3 linked regions of the Homo sapiens genome follow. The protein of the gene in region 1 purifies or fractionates together with the protein of each later gene. This does not show direct contact. Each region holds a gene or a part of one and is shown in the gene's direction. Other genes may lie near its edges.

The links. Proteins that work in one complex are often made in the same cells at the same time.
Region 2: the proteins of CLTB (region 1) and PICALM purify together in Homo sapiens (affinity purification with mass spectrometry; 2 studies listed by BioGRID and IntAct, with this or other methods). This does not show direct contact.
Region 3: the proteins of CLTB (region 1) and PIK3C2A purify together in Homo sapiens (affinity purification with mass spectrometry; 2 studies listed by BioGRID and IntAct, with this or other methods). This does not show direct contact.

The regions. Positions count from the first base shown.
Region 1 is NC_000005.10:176,413,528-176,420,420, reverse strand, and holds the start of CLTB (clathrin light chain B), read left to right. Parts: upstream 1-3,881; 5' UTR 3,882-4,057; coding exon 4,058-4,244; intron 4,245-5,357; exon of another isoform or gene 5,358-5,683; coding exon of another isoform or gene 5,684-5,968; intron 5,969-6,893. Other genes in the region: ARL10 (ADP-ribosylation factor-like protein 10), read right to left, coding at 5,684-5,968. UniProt on the Homo sapiens protein: Clathrin is the major protein of the polyhedral coat of coated pits and vesicles.
Region 2 is NC_000011.10:86,059,075-86,066,100, reverse strand, and holds part of PICALM (phosphatidylinositol-binding clathrin assembly protein), read left to right. Parts: intron 1-2,224; exon of another isoform or gene 2,225-7,026. UniProt on the Homo sapiens protein: Cytoplasmic adapter protein that plays a critical role in clathrin-mediated endocytosis which is important in processes such as internalization of cell receptors, synaptic transmission or removal of apoptotic cells.
Region 3 is NC_000011.10:17,162,977-17,170,002, reverse strand, and holds part of PIK3C2A (phosphatidylinositol 4-phosphate 3-kinase C2 domain-containing subunit alpha), read left to right. Parts: intron 1-196; 5' UTR 197-261; coding exon 262-1,326; intron 1,327-7,026.

The DNA.
Region 1 (6,893 bases):
AAAGGGGTTTTAAAGGCAAAATGAGGAAGGCTACGTAAGTTGTTTTGAAAAAATTATCCTTGGCTACAAGGATTGATAACAAGGGTAGCATTATTCCAAGATTGAACAGGCAATTGCTGGGCAGGTGTCATTGCAGAAATATTCTTCGTGCATGGGTGTGACGGCCTTTGTGCAAGATTGTGGTTTCAGACAATCCTTGTTTTTTGTTGTTGTTGTTGTTGGGTTTTTTTTTTTTTCTTGAGACGGAGTTTTGCTCTTGTTGCCCAGGCTGGAGTACAATGGGGCAATCTCGGCTCACTGCAACCTCTGCCTCCCAGGTTCAAGCAATTCTTCTGCCTTAGCCTCCTGAGTAGCTGGGATTACAGGTGTGTGCCACCACACCCAGCTAATTTTGTATTTTTAGTAGAGACGGGGTTTCATCATGTTAGGTTGGTCTTGAACTCCAGACCTCAGGTGATCCGCCCATCTCAGCATCCCAAAGTGTTGGGATTACAGGCATGAGCCACCGTGCCCAGCCTCAGACAGTCCTTGTAATATTTTCTATCATAGGCATGTGTGCATGGGAGCCCCTCATTTATGGCCTCCTGAGTCCATTTTGCTAGGGTTTGGCATAAGTGACTCCAGTTTGATTTGGACAACTTGTGCAGAAGGATGCCCACTTTTGGTATTTCTATTCAACATAGTACTGGAAGTCCTAGCCAGAGAAATTAGGCAAGAAAAAGAAATAAAAGCAACCCAGATTGGAAAGTAAGAAGTATCTCTGTTTGCAGATGCTATTTATTTATTTAGAGACAGGGTCTCACTCTCATTGCCCAGGCTGGAGCGCAGTGGTGTGATTGTTATAGGACAGGGGTCCCAATCCAGACCCCAAGAGAGGGTTCTTGGATCTCACGCAAGAAAGAATTCAGGGTGAGTCCTTGGTGCAAAGCGAAAACAAGTTTATTAAGAAAGTAAAGGAGGGGCCGGGCACGGTGGCTCACGCCTGTAATCCCAGCACTTTGGCAGGCCGAGGTGGACAGATCATGAAGTCAAGAGATCGAGACCATCCTGGCTAACAGGGTGAAACCCCGTCTCTACTAAAAATACAAAAAAAAAAAAAATTAGCTGAGCATGGTGGCAGGCTCCTGTAGTCCCAGCTACTTGGGAGGCTGAGGCAGGAGAATGGCGTGAACCCGGGAGGTGGAGCTTGCAGTGAGCCGAGATCGCACCACTGCACTCCAGCCTGGGCAACAGAGCGAGACTCCACCTCAAAAAAAGAAAAAGAAAGTAAAGGAATAGAAGAATGGCTACTCCATAGACAGAGCAGCCCCAAGGACTGCTGGTTGCATATTTTCATGGCCATTTCTTGATGAAATGCTAAACAAGGGGTGGATTATTCGTGCCTTCCCTTTTTAGACCGTATAGGGTAACTTCCTGATGTTGCCATGGCATTTGTAAACTGTCCTGGCACTGGTGGGAGTGAGGATGACCAGAGGTCACTCTTGTCACCATTTTGGTTTTGGTGGGTTTTGGCTGGCTCCTTTACTGCAACCTGGTTTTTGTTGTTGTTGTTTGTTGGTTTGTTTGTTTTTTGAGACTGAGTCTTGCACTGTCACCCAGGCTGGAGTGCAGTGGTGAGATCTCGGCTCACTGTAACCTCCGCCTCCCGGGTTCAAGCAATTCTCCTGCCTCAGCCTCCCAAGTAGCTGGGATTACAGGCACCTGCCACCATGCCCAGCTAATTTTTTGTATTTTTAGTAGAGACGGGGTTTCACTATATTGACCAGGCTGGTCGCAAACTCCTGACCTCACAATCCGCCCACCTTGGCCTCCCAAAGTGCTGGGATTACAGGCGTGGGCCACCTTGCCCAACACTGCAAACTGTGTTATCAGCAAGGTCTTTATGACTTGTATTTTGTGCTGACCTCCTATCTCATCCTGTGATTTAGAATGCCCTAACCGTCTGGGAATGCAGCCCAGTAGGTTTCAGCCTCATTTTACCCAGATCCTGTTTACGACGGACTTGCTCTGATTCACACACCTCTGACACAATCATAGCTCACTGCAACCTTGACTTCCCGGGCTCAGGTGATTCCCTCACCTCGGCCTCCTGAGTAACTGGGACTACGGGCACCATACCACCATGTCTGGCTAATTTTTTGTAGTTTTAGTAGTGATGGGGTTTTGCCACGTTGTCCAGACTGGTCTCAAACTCCTGGGCTCAATCTATCCACCCACTTCCACCTCCCAAAGTGCTGGGATTACAGGTATGAGCCATGGCACCTGGCTAATAAGCTCTTATCTGCAGAAAACCCTAAATATTCCACACACAAAAAATGTTAGAGCTAATAAATGAATTCAGCAAAGCAGCAGGATACAAAGCCAATGCACAAAAATCAGTTAAATTTCTATGCATTAACAATACGCAATCAAAAAAGAAGATAAAACTTCCACTTACAATAACATCAAAAAGGCCAGGTGTGTTGGCTCATGCCTGTAATCCCAGCTCTTTGGAAGTCTGAGGATGAGAGGATCACTTGAGCCCAGGAGTTGAAGCTGTAGTGAACTATAATCGTACCACTACACTCTAGCCTGGGCAAGAGTAAGATCCTGTCTCAAAACAAAAAACAAACAAACAACAACAACAAAACCATGCAAATGGACAGCAATAAATAAATACATTAATTTAATTAAATAAAACAATAAAAACCCCCCCAAAAACAGTAACATCAAAAGGTGCTCAAGTTGTTACCAATTAAACTGAAAGTTCCAGCTGGGCTTGGTAGCTCACACATGTAATCCCAGTGTTTTGGGAGACCAAGGCAGGAGGATCCCCTGAGGCCAGCAGTTCAAGACCAGCCCAGTTAATATAGCGAGGCCCTGTCTCTAAATAAAAAAATTAAAAAGAAAAAAAAAAAAACACCTGGAAGGTCCCTTCACCCCAACTCCACTTCCACCCCCAACTTGGCGGCACATCTTTCCTTTCGCTCTTCCAGTCCATATTTCATAGTTGCCTTTCAAGTCCCACATTAGAAATAGCAGACAGCCCAAATCCCATGGTGTTTCTTTGCATCGTCTCCCTATACCCCGTGTTTAAATGTCACAGCGCCTCACACACAGTGCTTTGACAGGCCATTTGCCATCTGTTGGTCTCACCGGATTGTAATCTCCGCATGGCCATGGCTGGATTTTATAAAACGTTGCTGTCCTGGTGCTTGGCAAAGCGCAGGCAGGGAGGAGGCATTCAGAGCCTGTTCACAGAGGGCAGCGGGCAGCGTGGAGAGTGGTAGGCTGCCTGGGTAAACCAGGTCTGCCTTTCTCAGGCTGGTTCATACCTAAAGGACATTTAAGGGGCCTAGCTGGCCATCCAAACTCTGGTCGTATGAACTGAAGCCTCCTCAAGGGAGATACACAAAAAAATACACAAAACAACACGGCCTAGTGGGAAAGGACCTGGACTTGCATGAAAAGGTGCGGGGCAGCCTTTCCCAGCCTCAATTTTCCTCTTCTTACAGAGGCGGAGGCTCATAGAATGAGGTGCATGACATCCCAACCTAGGAGAAGAAACTTCTGCAGAATGAATCAGGAGCCAGGTCTGCGCTCCCGAGGCCAGAGGTGGCCTCCTGTCGCAGCTCTGTGCACGGTACGGCCACTCTGTGCCCTGCGTTTCGCCTCCAGGCCGGGCGGGAGCAGTGCCTAGCCCAGGTGTCCTCGACGCGAGCAGCTGGGCGCCGCTGCGGAGGGAGGGAAGCGCCGCGCCGGTCCCGGGCCCAGCGCTGCGCCCAGTCCTGAGGCGCCCTCCTGCGGCCGCTGCTCGGCGACCTCCCGGCCCTGCGGCCCCGCCCCCGCGGTGACGTCACCGCATTCCGGCTCCGCTCCTCCCGCCGCGGCGCCCGCACCGCAGTGACAGCCAGCCGGGCCCGGTGGCGGAGAGGAAGTGCGGTCCGCGCCAAGCCCGTCCCCGCCGACGCCGGCTCCCCCGCGGCTCGGGTGACAGCGTCGCGGCCGCCGGACGCAGCGCGGGGCAGGCGCGGGCAGAGCCGAGCGCAGCGGAGGCTCCGGCGGAGGCGCGGGGAAAATGGCTGATGACTTTGGCTTCTTCTCGTCGTCGGAGAGCGGTGCCCCGGAGGCGGCGGAGGAGGACCCGGCGGCCGCCTTCCTGGCCCAGCAGGAGAGCGAGATTGCAGGCATAGAGAACGACGAGGGCTTCGGGGCACCTGCCGGCAGCCATGCGGCCCCCGCGCAGCCGGGCCCCACGAGTGGGGGTGAGTCAGCGCGGGGCCTGGAGAGGGGCTCAGGGCGCGCACCCGGGGGACCCCGGCCGGGGCCCAGGGGCACAGGGAAGAGAGCCTGCTCTAGGCCACCCGGGGCAGGAGCTGGGAGACGTGGGGAAGAATCTTCTTGGAGATCTCCATGTAGGACTTCCGAGCTGGGGATGAGGCCTCGCCTGGGGCTGTGGATCTGGTGACTCCCGGGACAGGAATTCGGTCATGACATTTCATCCCCAGGCCAGCTTCCCCACTGCCCGGCTCTGGAATCCAACCCCACCTCAGTTTTGAGAGTCCCTCCTGAGCCTCCTAATAGCCTGGGTGTCCCAGGCTCCCAGCTAAGTGTGCAGGTGTGGGCAGAACACAGCCCTCCTGGCCCCTCAGGCTTAGCTCTCTCCTGCAGCTGGGAAAAAAGAGGATCCTGGGTGCTCCAGGAACTCACTAACCTTCCCCGGTGACCGCCTGGCATTCGGCAGTCGCTGGGCTAAGCGCCTTGGTTACATTTAATCACTTCATACACGTGATTGAACCCATTTCAGAGATGGTAAAACTGAGGCTCAAGGGAGTATGCTATTGAAATAACTAGTAAGTGGCAGATCAAGAATTTAAACCTGTTTCTTTTTCTTTTACATATATATTTTTTCTTTTCCTTTTTTTGAGATGGGGTCTCGCTATGTTGCCCAGACTGGTCTTGAGCTCCTGGGCTCAAGCAATCCTCCCACCTCTGCCTCCTAAAGTGTTGGGATTACAGGTGTGAGTCACCACACCTGGCCGTGAATTTAAACCTGTTCCTGTCGGACTTGAAGCCCTCTCCACCTGACCACACTGCCTACCAAGTGTCTGGCTCTGAGTTAGACACCGGAGTGTGGGCCACAAAGAGGCATCAGTCAGATGCGGTAGGGCCCTTCAGGGTTTTGTAGTTGTCGACTTAATGGTTTTCCAAAGGTGGTCCGGGGCTATTATGATTTACTGTGATTGGCTTCAGACCTCAGTGTTCAGGGCCTAGTCCCTGTGAAATCATCTTTATCAATGATGTTTCTGCCCTGGTTCTGGCTAGCAAGAATGATTTTGTAAAATATTTAGTAAAAAAGTAGATATCACCTTCATGGGTACATCCAAAACAGGTTTTACTTCCTGTTGATGTCATTTTGGAAAGGTTTATGGGCCTGTTGTAGTAAGTGCTAACATATATACATATAGACATATTTTGGTTAATGATGTTTACAAGGCTCTTCACAGTCATGTTTGTATCCATTCAACGTTTACTGAGCACCTACTGTGTGTCAGGACGCTGGGGATACAGAAATGAATAAGACAGTTCCTGTGGCTGAGGAGTTTGAAGCAACTCTGTATCTCCTTGATATGAGAAATGTAACCAGGCTTTTGTAACATGCAAGAAACCGGTGGCCCAGAGAATCTGAGTATCTTGCCCAGAGTCACACAGCCAGGAATGACCAATCTAGGACTTGATCCCACGCCTCCCAACTCTGGGCTCCATGCTCTTTCAAATGCTGTGGAGCCTGGGCAACATGGTGAAACCCCATCTCTACAAAACATACAAAAATTAGCCAGGCATGGTGGCATGTAGCTGTAGTTGTAGTTCCAGCTGCTCGGGAAGGCTGAGGCAGGAGCATAGCTTGAGCCCGGGAGGTGTAGGTAGGTCGCCGTGTGCTGTGATCACGTCTCTGTACTCCAGCCTGGGCAGCAGAGTGAGACCCTGTCTCAAAAAAAAAAAAAAAAAGATTCTATAGCAGTCACCTCCCTGGCAGGAGATAGGATGTGGGGTGAGAAGCATGGGGTCTTTTGCCACCTATCTGAGACAGCAATGGAGGGCTTCTGAAGTGGAAGCTTCCAGCACCTCAATACAGAATCTGCCGTGTCCCAGGGAATTCCTAAGAAATGCCTGCCCCAGTTAATGCACCAGTATTCACTGGACCACACCTCTGTGAGACCACCCTTTTCCTCAGTCTGGCTCACTGGGGCCTGTTGGGGTCGGGGTGCAGGGAAGAGGAGGGAGGCCTTGTGGGGAGGTCCTGCTGAGGGGAGCCATTGTGAGAACCTCAGGAGAGAAAAGATGGGATTCAGGCTGAGGGCAGCCAGATGCCTGAGGGAGCTGAGCAGGTTGTGGCCTCTCCCAGGATGGTGGGGCTCCAGGGACTTACAGTCTGGATGGCAAGTTCTGTCCTTGGCAGGGGTGGGGCACAAATTGGCCTCAGACCAGAGGTGACAGGGAGAGAAACAATGACACGCTCGCTTCTTCCAGGGAGGTGCCGGGGATACAGCCTTCTGAGGGTCTCCCAGGCGCATACCTGCTGACTCTGCAAAGGCTCAGCTGCCCTCCTTAGTTGGATCGGGGAGCAGGGAGGTGTTGAGGGATGGCGGCTCAGTGGATGGCCAGATGGGCTAGAATTGATCTGACCTTCTCAGCCTATGCAGTGCTGAACAGGTAATCTTCCCCTGACCAGGGATGTGTGCCAGGAGCCTGGATGGGGCAGAGAAAAAGCGCCCTGGCCTGCTGAGAGCTGGGCAAAAGCTGGCTTAGCAGCGGCCGCCAGTCAGTACCTCTGAGGCACCTTCTCTTAGATGTTGGGGTCCTCAGATTAGCAATCTCTGTGCTGACACTGGGCTCAGTTGCCCCTGGGGAAA
Region 2 (7,026 bases), on another chromosome or scaffold:
GTCATTTCAAGTAATTTTTTGTCTTTTAGGAATTTTTCTTTATAGTGAAAGCTTAGTTTATGTGCACCTTTTAATGCCCCTAGCAACTGATGCTTATTTATATGAATCTAATGAAAATGATTTCATTTTAAAATGGCAGCATTTAACAAAAAATATGCTTAGGACTGTTGTTTTTCGTATAAGCCCTTAGAGTGTGGAGGTGGTTTCTGTCAGTTTCTCGCCAAGATCTTTCCACATTAGGAAGTGATTATTAATAATTCATGAATTATGGCTTAATTCATACTACATTATATACTTACTGAAGAAAGATTTTTTTGCTTTGCTTATACTGTAGGTGTTAGTGGATAATAGTGTTGACTAGCATCCCTAGTGTGAAAGAGTTGTCAAACTTGAAATATGTTTGTAAAAATAAACACGATTTCCGTTTAATCTTAGGCCTTTAGTAGCCATAATCAAGGTAGAGGAATAGCAGCCCTTATATTTGAAGAACTTCAGTTTTCCAGGCACTTTCTCATCATCTCATTTAATCCTGTCTCACAGCTGGAGGTGGGGGCAATTCATATACATAGAAAGTAGCTTCTAATTCCATTTAGCAGTACAGAATGCTTAAAAGAACCATAATTATTGCAGGATAGAAAAAACAAATTTTTTTTTTTTTTGAGACGGAGTCTCGCTCTGTCGCCAGGCTGGAGTGCAGTGGTGCGATCTTGGCTCACTGCAACCTCTGCCTCCCAGGTTCAAGAGATTCTGCCTCAGCCTCTTGAGTAGCTGTGACTACAGGCGCATGCCACCACACCCAGCTAATTTTTGTATTTTTAGTAGAGATGGGGTTTCACCATGTTGGCCAGGATGGTCTGGATCTCTTGACCACATGATTCGCCCGCCTCGGCCTCCCAAAGGGCTGGGATTACAGACGTGTGAGCCACTGTGCCTGGCCCACAATTTTTAATTTATAACTTCTTAATATAAAAATCATTTTTATCTGATCTTACAATCTTTAGTCTTAACCCCACCCCTTTTTTTGGATACAGGGTCTTGCTCTGTCTCTGGTGTGCAGTGGCAGGATCATGGCTCACTGCAGCCTTATCCTCCTCAGGCTCAAGAAATCCTCCCACATCAGTCTCCCAAGTAGCTGGGACTATAGGCATGTGCCACCACGCCTGGTTAATTAAAGAAACTTTTTATTTTTGGAGAGATGGGGGTCTCCCTATGTGGCCCAGGCTGGTCTTGAACTCCTGGGCTCAAGTAATCCTCTTGCCTCAGCCTCCCAGAGTGCTGGGATTACAGGTGTGAGCCAGCATGCCTGGCCCTTATCCTATTTTTTGATATGAATTCTTAATTTTCTTTATTCTTATTTACTATCGTTGGACATTTATATTTTGACATATTTCACTGAAATGTAATATTTATACTAATGGCTGTAATGTCTCCTTTTTTTTTTTTTTTTTTAAAATGAGGTGGGTCTTACTCTGTTGCCCAGGCTGGAGTGCAGTGGTGGAATCACATCTCACTGCAGCCTTGACTTCCCGGGTTCAGACAATCTTTCTGAGTACCTGGGACCACAGGCATCTGCTACCACGCACAGCTAATTTTTAATTTTTATACAGACAGGGTCTCCTTGTGTTGCTCGGGCAGGTCTCAAACTCCTGGGCTCAAGGATCCTCTCTACCAGCTGAGCCTCCTAAAGTGCTGGGATTATAGGTGTGAGTCACCATATCCTGTATGTCTCTGTTTTTTAATTCATATTTTCCCCAGTTAATTTACAGGGACATTTCATTTCAACCACTGCCTTATCTTTTCTAAAACAAAATCAAGATCAAGTTCTTACTAAGCATCCATTATCAACATATCTCTGGTCGATACAGCATGGTTATTTGTATGTTGTGAACTGGATCTAGAAATTGGAAATAAGTTTTTAAAAAGTAGGATTTGAATATTTTGCATATGTAGAATTTGTATTTGGGCTAGTGGTTTGTGTAACTACATTAAAAATGCGTATAACATACCAGACTGTACCTGAATTAATTCCCTTTTAAAGCACAAATGGTTTTTAATGTCTCAGTTAATAATATCTTATGGGTGCTTAGTTTGCGTATTGTCAAGAAGGATCTGGTAACTAGGATGTGATTTCTAAGAAGATGCATGTAAGGAAGAAATAAAGTAGAAGATCTGTCCCAGGATATCTTTTATTTAAAAGTAAGGTAACTGGGACTTTTTTTTTTTCCAAAAGGATCTTGTTTTAAGAAGACAGTTATTTTGTAATTAATGTCTGGGCTTCCTATTCTTTCCTGTAAGAATTAGTCATATGATTTATATTTTCATTTTTCATTATCCTTACTAGTCTTTTAGTAGTTTTGCAATACAGAAAATAGAAATAGAGTTATCAAAGTGGTAGTAATGAGTAAGATTTGATCACACATGTCAAATGCCTGAGGCATTTTATTTATTTTTATTTTTTCTGTCGCCATGGCAGAACAGAATGCCTGAGGTATATAATAAAATTCACAAATGTATCCTTTTTCCTCCCAGATATGTCTAGTTAAGTTTCTGAACAGTATGTGTTTTAAAAGAGGAACTCTAAAGAGAACTTAATATTCAACTATTTTTTGTAGCCGCTTATTCATAATTAGCAAATGAATTCTGAAATACTTTTGTAATTATTGTTCCCTGATGGATTTATTTGCTATGTTAAGAAATAGTATAAGACTTTGGGCATCTATATACCTTTTGTGTTTACTGAATATTTTATATATCTGGATAATTTTTAAAGGTGTCTTTGAATTTAAAGTTACTATGGCAGGTGAGAAGTGAAACACTTCATAAGATGTGATTGACATTTTTCTTTCATACGCTTTGTGAGACATTTATATGAAACATTTACTTTGATGTTTAAAAAACACTGATTGTTTAAAAATAATCTATTTTAATAATCAGAATTGCTTTCATTTAAAAATATTTGTTTATTTGGCCATGATAATCATTTAGAATAGTTAATGTGAAAGTTCACCGTAGACATAGTTGTTTCTCCTTTGTTTTCTTCAGCTCTGAAATGGTTAATTTCATGGTTTCTCACTTAAAATAAAGAAGTAAGAAAAATAAACTTACAGGCTTCTTGGCAAGAGGTTAGAGCCCTACCAGGAAGAAGTAGCCTTAGACTTTCAAAGTAAAGTCTTAGTATTTGCTCTTCCTGTTCTTTTGGTAGCTAAAGTGGCATTTCCGTTACTTTGTGTTCTGTCTTAGTATGTTCCCAGTTAAACTGCTTTATACGTTTCTCTAGAGAATCAAAATTTTGGACTTGACCTTTTAGTATTTTGTATGTTCACTGTGTATGTGAATCATTTTGGGCAGTTAGATAGTTCTTTAAAAGAGAATCTTGATGAACCTAAGCCTTTGTATTAAAAATTATGTTCAGAGTTGTGATTTGTTAGATTATCAGAAAATGAAGGATTTCTCAAGTTATATTATTATCAAGATATATTATATCCCCCACGAAAGTGGTACATTTGTTAAAATTGATGGACCTACATTCAGACATCTTTACCACCCAAAGTCCATGGTTTACATTAGGGTTTTTTTTTTTTTGAGACGGAGTTTCGCTCTTGTTGCCCAGGCTGGAGTGCAGTGGTGCGATCTCAGCTAACTGCAACCTTTGCCTCCTGGGTTCAAGGGATTCTCCTGCCTCAGCCTCCCAAATACCTGGGATTACAGGTGCCCACCACCACGCCCAGCTAAATTTTTGTATTTTTGATAGAGATGGGGCTTCACCATGTTGGCCAGGCTGGTCTCGAGCTCCTGACCTCAGGTGATCCACCCACCTCGGCCTCCCAAAGTGTTGGGATTACAGGCGTGAGCCACTGCGCCCGGCCAAGGTTTACTCTTGCTGTTTGTATGTTCTATGGGTTTGGCCAATTGTATGGCACATATCCACTGTTGTAGCGGTACAATGTTTATCTGCCCTGAAATACTCTGTGCTCCCCCTCGCCATCCCTTCTCTTCCCCAGCCACTGGCAACCACTATTTTTTGTTAACTGTCTCCATAGTTTTGCCTTTTCAAGATGTCATAGTTGGAATCATACAGTCTATAGCCTTTTCAGATTTTCTTTTTTCACGTACTAATATGCGTTTACGATTTCCTCAATGGCTTTTCACGGTTTGACAGCTTTTTTTTTTCTTTTGCACTTGACTATTCTATTATCTGGATATACCCGGGTTTATTTGTCCATTTACTTACTGAAGGACATCTTGGTTGCTCCCTAGTTTTGGCAATCGTGAATAAAGCTGCTATAAACATCAAACATCTGTGTGCGTGTCTTTTGTGTGGACATAAGTTTTCAGTTCGTTTGGGTAAATAGCAAGGAACACAGTTGCTGGATCATATGGTAAGAATACCTTTAGTTTTGCAAGAAACCTCTAAACTGTCTTTCAAAGTGATGGTACCATTTTATATTCCCACCAGTAATGAATGGGAGTTTCTGTTCACATTCTCACCAGCATTTGATATTGTCACTGTTAATGGGTTTTGGCCATTCTAATAGGTGTGTAGTGGTATTGTTTTAATTTGCATTTTCCTGATTATGTGACTTTTTTTCATATGCATACTCGCCATCTTTATATCTTCTTTAGTGAGGTGTCCGTTAAGGTCATTGTCCTGTTCTTAAAGTCAGGTTCTTTGTTTTCTTATTGTTGAGGTTTGAGAGTTGTTTATTTTGAATAACAGTCCTTTATCAAATGTGTCTTTTCTTTTCTTTTTTTTTTTTTTTTTTTTTTTTTGAGATGGAGTCTTGCTCTGTCTCCCGGGCTGGAGTGCAATGGGGCCATCTCATCTCACTGTAAGCTCTGTCTCCCAGGGGTTCAAGTGATTCTTCTGCCTCAGCCTCGCAAGTAGCTGGGATTACAGGTGTCTACCATCATGCCTGGCTAATTTTTGTATTTTTAGTAGAGATGGCGTTTGACCATATTAGCCAGGCTGGTCTTGAACTCCTCATCTCAGGTGATCCGCCTGCTTCAGCCTCCCAAAGTGTTGGGATTACAGGCATGAGCCACTGAGCCCGGCTATCAAATGTATCTTTTGCAAATATTTTCTCCCAGTCTGTGCCTTGTCTTTTTCATTCTCTTGACAATGCCTTTCACAGAGCAGAAAATTTTAATCTTAATGAAGTCCAGTTTAGCAGTTCTTTCTTTCATGGGTCATGCCTTCATCATTGTATTTAAAAAGTCATCAACAAACTCAAGGTCATCTAGATTGTCTTCTATGTCACCATTTGGGAGCTTTATAATTTTGCATTTTACATTTAGGTCTGTGATCCATTTTGAGTTAATTTTTGTGAGTGTAATGTCTGTCTCCTGATTCATTTTTTTTTTTTTTGCCTGTGGATATCTAGTTGTGCAGTACTATTTGTTGAAAAGATTATCTTTGCTGCATTGTATTGCCTTTCTCCTTTGCTGGCAGTGGTTCTTAAGGTGTGGTCTGGGGACTTTTGGGGGTCCTCAAGACCATTTCAGCAAGTTTGTGAGTTCAAAACTGTTTTCATATACTAAGACATTATTTGCCTTTTCTATTTTTATTCTTTCAAGAACCACTGTACAGTGGAGTTTTCTAGAGGCTGTGTGATGTGTGTGTGATATTGCCATAGGTTGAATGTAGTAGCAGATAATGATAATTCAACTATTTCCTATTAAACCACAAAATAGAGTTTTGCCAAAATGTGAAACAGTGCCACTCTTCTAAATTGTGGGGTTTTTTGAAAATACTGTTATTTTTCAAATGAATTAATGTTGATAAATTTATCAGTTTCAGTTTCTAACAGTAAATATTGGTAGAGAACCCCCACATGAAAGCTCTTGGCTCCTCAATTTTAAAAGTGTGAAGGTTCTGAGACTAAAAAAATGCACCTTTAGGGATGAGTGTGTATTAGAAGGGACAAAAGAGTACTCAAAGAGGAACTAGATCTAAGGGATCCTTTGAATTCTCAAAGTAATTTTGGATTTGATTTTGTAGGTAACAGTGCCTCAACTTTTGGAAGATTTCAAGCAAGAGATGTGGTATCATAATCCCTATGTCCACTTTATGTCCATAAATAGATTGGAAGGAGTGTTCAGTATGACTTGGAAAGGAAACTGCTGGGGCAAAAAAGTCTTAACAATAATATTTAAATTTTTTTCCCAAAGGCCTTAAAAATTAGTTATTAATTGGAACTCTTGATTATTTGTCCTCTCTCTTTTTTTTTTTTATGTCAAAACTATCCTTTTTTGTGAAAGTTAGGCAGGTTAGGTATCAATTGTGCCAAAAGTTCTTGACTACCAAACCGTTAGCCTTTGCACATATGATTCCTTGGACTAAAGACAGGGTCTGGCTCTGTCACCCAAGCTGGAGTGTAGTGTCATGATCATGGCTTACTGTAACTCTGAACTCTTGGGCTCAAGGGATTCTCTTGCCTCAGCCTCCTGAGTAGGTAGGACTACAGGTGTGTGCCACCATGCCCTGCTAAAGAGAAAGGGGTCTCTTTCCTAGGCTGGTCTCGAACTTCTGGCCTTGGCCTCCCAAAGTGCTGGGATTATAAGTGTGAGCCACCATGCTCGGCCTCTTTTAAACTGTCTTTACCTTGCTCCCATTAATATTCACATTTAAGGTAACCGCTTTCATAAAAACATCACTGAATAACTCCCCCTGGTCCTGTCAGTCCAGCATTATTCTCACCATTTATAGAGTTTCAAATATTGTTAAACTGTAGTGGCTATCTTGCTTTTATGTATTTTGGGTTTATGCACATTTCCTCCACAGAATAGGAATTGTTTTCGGTATTGTTCTCTATCTCTTCTCCAAGTACCTAGTCAGCAACCCCCCATGGGTGCTCAGTAAATATTGAATGATTATACTTAACCTCCCTTCATAGCTCAGACTATTCCATGAACAATTTATGGACATAAAAATCTATGCCAGTAGACATTTAAGGATATTTTTTATGGTGACTATGGAAATTGCCTGGTTACAAATTTATATATAGAGTCAGTAACATTGATAAAAAC
Region 3 (7,026 bases), on another chromosome or scaffold:
TGAACATCTTCTGTAACCCAACAGTGTATAAGGTGTTAAGTGTTCCTTCACCCAGATTTTATCTGTTTTATTTTGTTTATTTTGTAGTATATTTTTCTAAGTGGCTTAAAGTCCAAAGTCATATGGGGTAGGTTGCAAACAAAATATATTTATGTTTAGAAATCTAATTGAGTGTTATGTTTATTTTTATGTATAGGCCTTGCTATTTTGGAAGCTACAAGAAAAAAATAGAGGAAGGAAGGTTTGGTCTTTTTAGTGGACATGGCTCAGATATCTAGCAACAGCGGATTTAAAGAATGTCCATCTTCACATCCGGAACCAACAAGAGCAAAAGATGTGGACAAAGAAGAAGCATTACAGATGGAAGCAGAGGCTTTAGCAAAACTGCAAAAGGATAGACAAGTGACTGACAATCAGAGAGGCTTTGAGTTGTCAAGCAGCACCAGAAAAAAAGCACAGGTTTATAACAAGCAGGATTATGATCTCATGGTGTTTCCTGAATCAGATTCCCAAAAAAGAGCATTAGATATTGATGTAGAAAAGCTCACCCAAGCTGAACTTGAGAAACTATTGCTGGATGACAGTTTCGAGACTAAAAAAACACCTGTATTACCAGTTACTCCTATTCTGAGCCCTTCCTTTTCAGCACAGCTCTATTTTAGACCTACTATTCAGAGAGGACAGTGGCCACCTGGATTACCTGGGCCTTCCACTTATGCTTTACCTTCTATTTATCCTTCTACTTACAGTAAACAGGCTGCATTCCAAAATGGCTTCAATCCAAGAATGCCCACTTTTCCATCTACAGAACCTATATATTTAAGTCTTCCGGGACAATCTCCATATTTCTCATATCCTTTGACACCTGCCACACCCTTTCATCCACAAGGAAGCTTACCTATCTATCGTCCAGTAGTCAGTACTGACATGGCAAAACTATTTGACAAAATAGCTAGTACATCAGAATTTTTAAAAAATGGGAAAGCAAGGACTGATTTGGAGATAACAGATTCAAAAGTCAGCAATCTACAGGTATCTCCAAAGTCTGAGGATATCAGTAAATTTGACTGGTTAGACTTGGATCCTCTAAGTAAGCCTAAGGTGGATAATGTGGAGGTATTAGACCATGAGGAAGAGAAAAATGTTTCAAGTTTGCTAGCAAAGGATCCTTGGGATGCTGTTCTTCTTGAAGAGAGATCGACAGCAAATTGTCATCTTGAAAGAAAGGTGAATGGAAAATCCCTTTCTGTGGCAACTGTTACAAGAAGCCAGTCTTTAAATATTCGAACAACTCAGCTTGCAAAAGCCCAGGGCCATATATCTCAGGTATAGTCTTTTCTTACTAACTTCTCAAACTTAGTATAACACAGAGTTCATATTTGTGTACATAATTTGTGTTTTTTTGTTTTTGTTTTTGTTTTTAAGAAGGAGTCTCGCTCTGTCGCCCAGGCTGGAGTGCAGTGGCGTGATTTCGGCTCACTGCAAGCTCCGCCTCCCAGGTTCACACCCTTCTCCTGCCTCAGCCTCCCGAGTGGCTGGGACTACAGGCACCCGCCACCACACCCGGCTAATTTTGTGTATTTTTAATAGAGACGGGGTTTCACTGTGTTAGCAAGAATGGTCTCGATCTCCTGACCTCGTGATCCACCCGTCTCAGCCTCCCAAAGTGCTGAGATTACAGGCGTGAGCCACTGCGCCCAGCCCATAATTTGTTAAGAAAAAAAAATATTTTTCACTTTGAATTTTGTTTTTCTTTGCTCTCAAGTGTGCTTTGATTCTTTGCTTGTGTGGCAAAGGATGAAATGTGATTAGGCCAATTGAAAAATTGCTTGCTATTAATATTTTTCTAGGATTGTAAATAAAAAGCCTCTAATGAAGGAACTGGCTGTCACTGAGAGGCATTTAAGATATTTTAAATTTGTCTGTCCATGTCTCCTCATTACATATGCTCCCTTCTTTCTCTTCCTTATTCCTGTTTTTTTTTAAATGCAAATAAGAAATTTTGGTTTTTAGCCCCATTATAGAAATTCTCACGCATTTTGTTTTGTTGTTTTTAACCATGAATCAATGAATAAATAACCCCAGAGAGAAGAGCAATTTAAAGGACTCTCCCTTTAAACACTTTTGTCGATAAAAGTGAAGAATGAAATATTACCATTGCAGATTTGTGTTTTGCTTTTATATCTGTGTATCCTGGGAATGTTTAAGCCTCATTCTCACTTTAACGTGAATTAATATTCAGCTAATTAGATCAGCACTTACCTACTATTTTATCATTGGGAGTTAACTAGCATTTAGATGGGGAAGGGAGGGATGGATTTTGCATGATTTGGATCGGTTTATGTTGAATTGTTGACTTTATTTATTACTATTATTATTTTGAGATGAAGTTTTGCTCTTGTTGCCCAGGGTGGAGTGCAGTGGTGCAGTCTTGGCTCACTGCAACCTCCACCTCCCAGGTTCAAGCGATTCTCCTGCCTCAGCTTCCTAAGTAGCTGGGATTACAGGCATGTGCCACTACACTGGCTGGTTTTGTATTTTTAGTAGAAACCGGGTTTCTCCATGTTAGTCAGGCTGGTCTCGAACTCCCGACCTCAGGTGATCAGCCCACCTTGGCCTCCCAGTATGCTGGGATTACAGGCGTGAGCCACCATGCCCGGCCAAATTGTTGACTTAAAAAAAAAACATTTTGGATGTCTGGAAGGAAGAGAAATCGGTGTTAAGAAGGTTTAGACAGCATGATGGCTCATGTTTATAATCCCAGCACTTTGGAAGACTACGGTGGGAGAATCACTTGAGCCCAGGAGTTTGAGACCAGCCTGGGCAACATAATGAGAACCTGTCTCTAACACAATTACAAAAAAATTAGCTGGGCGTGATGGCATACTCCTGTGGTCCCAGCTACTTGGGAGGCTGAGGTGGGAGGATCGTGTGAGACCAGGAGGTTGAGACTGCTGTGACCCATGATTGTACCACTGTACTCCAGCCTGGGCGACAGAGCAAGACTCTATCTCAAAAAAAAAGGGGCAGTTGGGGGGAAGGCACTGGTCCCCCTAATTTTCCCATCCTGCAGGGCCCAGGTCACTGCTGGATTCATATTCGGGTCAATTTCTAATAGGCAGATGACTCCCCAGCTGTGGGTCTCTATTTTATAGGTTTCTCATGAGAGAAATGAATTCTGTGTTTAGTGCCTGGAGTCAGGATTTGAGATGTAGTCTGGATTTAAGATGTCAGCTGTTTATAGTTGTTTGGGAAGGGCAACTGCCTTGAACCTGGAGACAGACATTGGGGCTCTGATAAGTTAGTCTTGCTATCAAAGAAAAGGAAGCCCCTTGTCTTGTAGGGAGCTGCGCTTAGGCTCAAGCCTTGCACTGGTAGAAGGCAGAGCCCCACAATGAATGCATTGTAGCTACAATAGATTGTCTTGAAGTTAATACAGATGTTTATAAATTACCTTGATTAATTTAATTATATCTTAAATTCTGAACTTCCCATTATTGAAAAGTCATTTACCTACTGAGAGAAATAGATTATCCCAGCTAAGCTGATATTACCATTCCAGATGCAATGTAGTCATCATCTTAAGCAAGTTGAGGTTTCTGGGTAGGTGGGTTATTTACTGTCCAAAGCTCCAAGACTGGGATTCGGAACCCAAGAACTTACATGCTTTTTATCTATGTTGTACATACTCAAACCGAACTCTTTATTTATTATTATTTTTACCAATATGTTGCCAAAGCCAAAGGACTCTTCTGCATTTTTTTTTTAATCACTGAGACAGAAAGCTCACAAGAATCCTATGAGGCCAGAGTATGACCCATCCCTATTTTACAGTTGAGGAAACTGAGATGTAAAGAAGTTAAAAGGAATTACTGTTAATATTTTGGTGTAATAATGGTATTGCAATTAATTAAATGAATCTTATATTTAGAGATGTATACTGTAGAATTTAAAATGTAGTAAAATCAAGTGAGGTATTGGGGTTTGGAGGGCTTATAGATGAAACAAGATTGGCTATATGTTGATAATTGTTGAAGCCGATGATGGATACCTGGGTGTTTATTCTATTATTTACTTTGTGTATATTTGAAAATTTTCATGATAACAAGTTGGAGGTCAAGGAGAGGGCTGCAGAACTCTTTGCAAGCAGCAAAGTTCTGACATTCAAACCCATCTGACTCTAAAAGCCCTCCCTTTTTTTTTTTTTTTTTTTTTTTTTTCACTTTTTTGAGACAGTTTCTCTCTTGTTGCCCAGGCTGGAGTGCAATTGCGTGATCTCAGCTCACCGCAACCTCTGCCTGCTGGGTTCAAGCGATTCTATTGCCTCAGCCTCCCGAGTAGCTGGGATTACAGTCATGCACCACCACGACCGGCTAATTTTGTATTTTTAGTAGAGACGCGGTTTCTCCATGTTGGTCAGATTGGTCTCAAACTCCCGACCTCAGGTGATCTGCCTGCCTCAGCCTTCCAACGTGCTGGGATTACAGGCGTGAGCCACCAAGGTCTGCCAGCCCTCCCTTTTTCAAACTCCAGTGATACAACATGCTATTTTGGAAGGAGTAAGTTCCCTGTCATAGGAGATATTCAAATATGGTTCAAATGGCTTCCCAAATTTAGTTATATGTCACAGTATCCTAGAGAGTTTAGGCCTACTCAGTCCTGATTTGGAGGAAGGGGTGTCAAAGGACAGTATGGAATTTCAGGGGGAAGATAACCAGTTTTTTCAAAACTTTCCCCCTTGGACCTCCATTTGGGACCTCTTGACTAGGTTATTTTAAAGTTTATTCATACTCAGGAGCCTATAAAGTTGGGAAAATGACAAGACAAATAGCAAATGTGAAAATAGAGTACCCTGGGAACAGTTTCTTTTCAGCTCAAAACCCAAAGCACAGGTTGTTAATGCTTTCATTGCGAAACTCAACTTCCTGCCCCTGCTTGACCTTTTTAGTTTAGATTGGTCACTCCTAGTTCAACACATGTGTTCTCCACCCTTTCCTTTGGTGGGGCAGGGGTGTGACACCCATGTAAGTCTCCCTACATTTATTTTTTCTTATGTATTTAAAATATTTGTCACAGTACCATCTTGATATTTTCCTTATTTGGGGTGCTTTCAGAAAGTATCTTGGAGGAATAATGAGGATGGGTGGTTTCCTAAAGATAGGAAGAAGTTTGCCTAGCAAGATCTGGGTAATCAAGTCACATAGGTGTTACAGAGAGCTGCTAGTTGCTCAAACTCTAGGAATTAATTAACTAGGCTGCCAAACAGGATTAGTTTTAGCAGAAACAAGTTCCTAGATCTTAGTTAAAAAATATAGGGGAAGGATTAAAGTAGTAAGCAAATGGATTATGAGAGATATGAGTCAGAAACTGGGTAAGCAATAATATGACTTGATCAGGGGATCAATCAGAGAGTGGAGCTAGATTACTACAGTGTAGCATATCAACAGCTTTACTGATAGCATGCTATCTGAACTGACATGGCTTAGGCTACTTGCCAGTCTTAAGGCAGTCTAACTGCAGCATGGCTGAGGAAGTGTTCATCATTCCATTATACTCTAATCAAACCCCATCTAATAATTTTGTTTGAGTATATCCTAAGAGGGGCCACCAGTAAGGAAACTGAAGTTTGTCTTTTTTTTTTTTTTTTTTAAGACAGGGTCTCACACTGTTTTACCTAGGGTGGAGTGCAGCAGTGCGATCACGGCTCACTGTAGCCTCTACCTCCCATACTCAAGTGATTCTTCTAATGCAGCCTCCTGAGTGGCTGGGACTATAGGTACACGCCACCACACCCAGCTAATTTTTTTGGGTTTTGTGAAGATGAGGTCTCCCTGTGGTGTAAGCCATTGTGCCCAGCCTAGAGTATGTCTTGAAAAGAGAAGACTGTAGTTTTCAGGATCTAGAACGTATGCCATTTGAGGAACTGTTGGAGGCATTTTGTCTGAAGAAGAGAATATTAATTGGAGTTAAATCACTGAATCTGAGTTTCTTTATCTATGAAATAAAGTTGGCTAGACTAGATCCTTTCATAAATAATAGTTAAAATTTGGGAAGTTGCCATGTGGAAGAGGAAGTGGACTTTTTTTTTTTTTTTAAGGTTTTGTATTTTGGACATACATTTTCAAACCAATTCAGGAAGTAGAATACCTGAAAGTCATGGTGCTCTTATAAAACAGGATGAAATGTTGATATACTAATTTTTTCAGTACGTTAAATATATTAAGTATACTACTTTGTGTTACATTAGATGACAATCTGTGCTAGATTATAATAGAAACAACTGGTAGAATGGTGGGTTTGGTGGCTCATGCCTGTAAACCCAGTGCTTTGGGAGGCCGAGGTGGGAGGATTGCTTGAGGCCAAGAATTCGAGACCAATCTGGGGAATGTAGGGAGACCCGTGTCTATAGAAAAAAAAAATAGCTGTGTGTGGTGATGCACGCTGGGACTACAGCTATTCTGTAGTCCCAGCTACTCAAGAAGCTGCAGTAGGAGGATCTCAAGCCCAGGAGTTTGAGGCTGCAATGAGCTATGATGATAAGGCCCTTGTACTCCAGCCAAGGCTACAGAATGAGACCCTGTGTCTAAAAAACAAAGGAATAACTGATAGTAAGGGCTGAAAGTTAAAATACATTGCATAGAAAAACTTAAAATTAAACAAGTCCTATTTGTTTGTTTGTTTTTGTTTGTTTTTTTGAAACAGGGTCTCGCTCTGTCACCCAGGCTCTGGAGTGCAGTGGCGTGATCTCGGCACACTGCAACCTCCACCTCCCAGGTTCAAGTGATTCTCCTGGCTCAGCTTCCCGAGTAGCTGGGACTACAGGTGCATGCCACCATGCCCTGCTAATTTTTGTATTTTTAGTAGAGTTGGGGTTACACCATGTTGACTAGGCTGGTCTCGAGCTCCTGACCTCAAGTGATCCACCCGCCTCAGTCCCCCCAAGTGCTGGGATTATAGGCGTGGCCACCGTGCCTGGCCAAACAAGTCCTATTTGTTTATATATTTTTTTCTGTGAATTGAGAATTC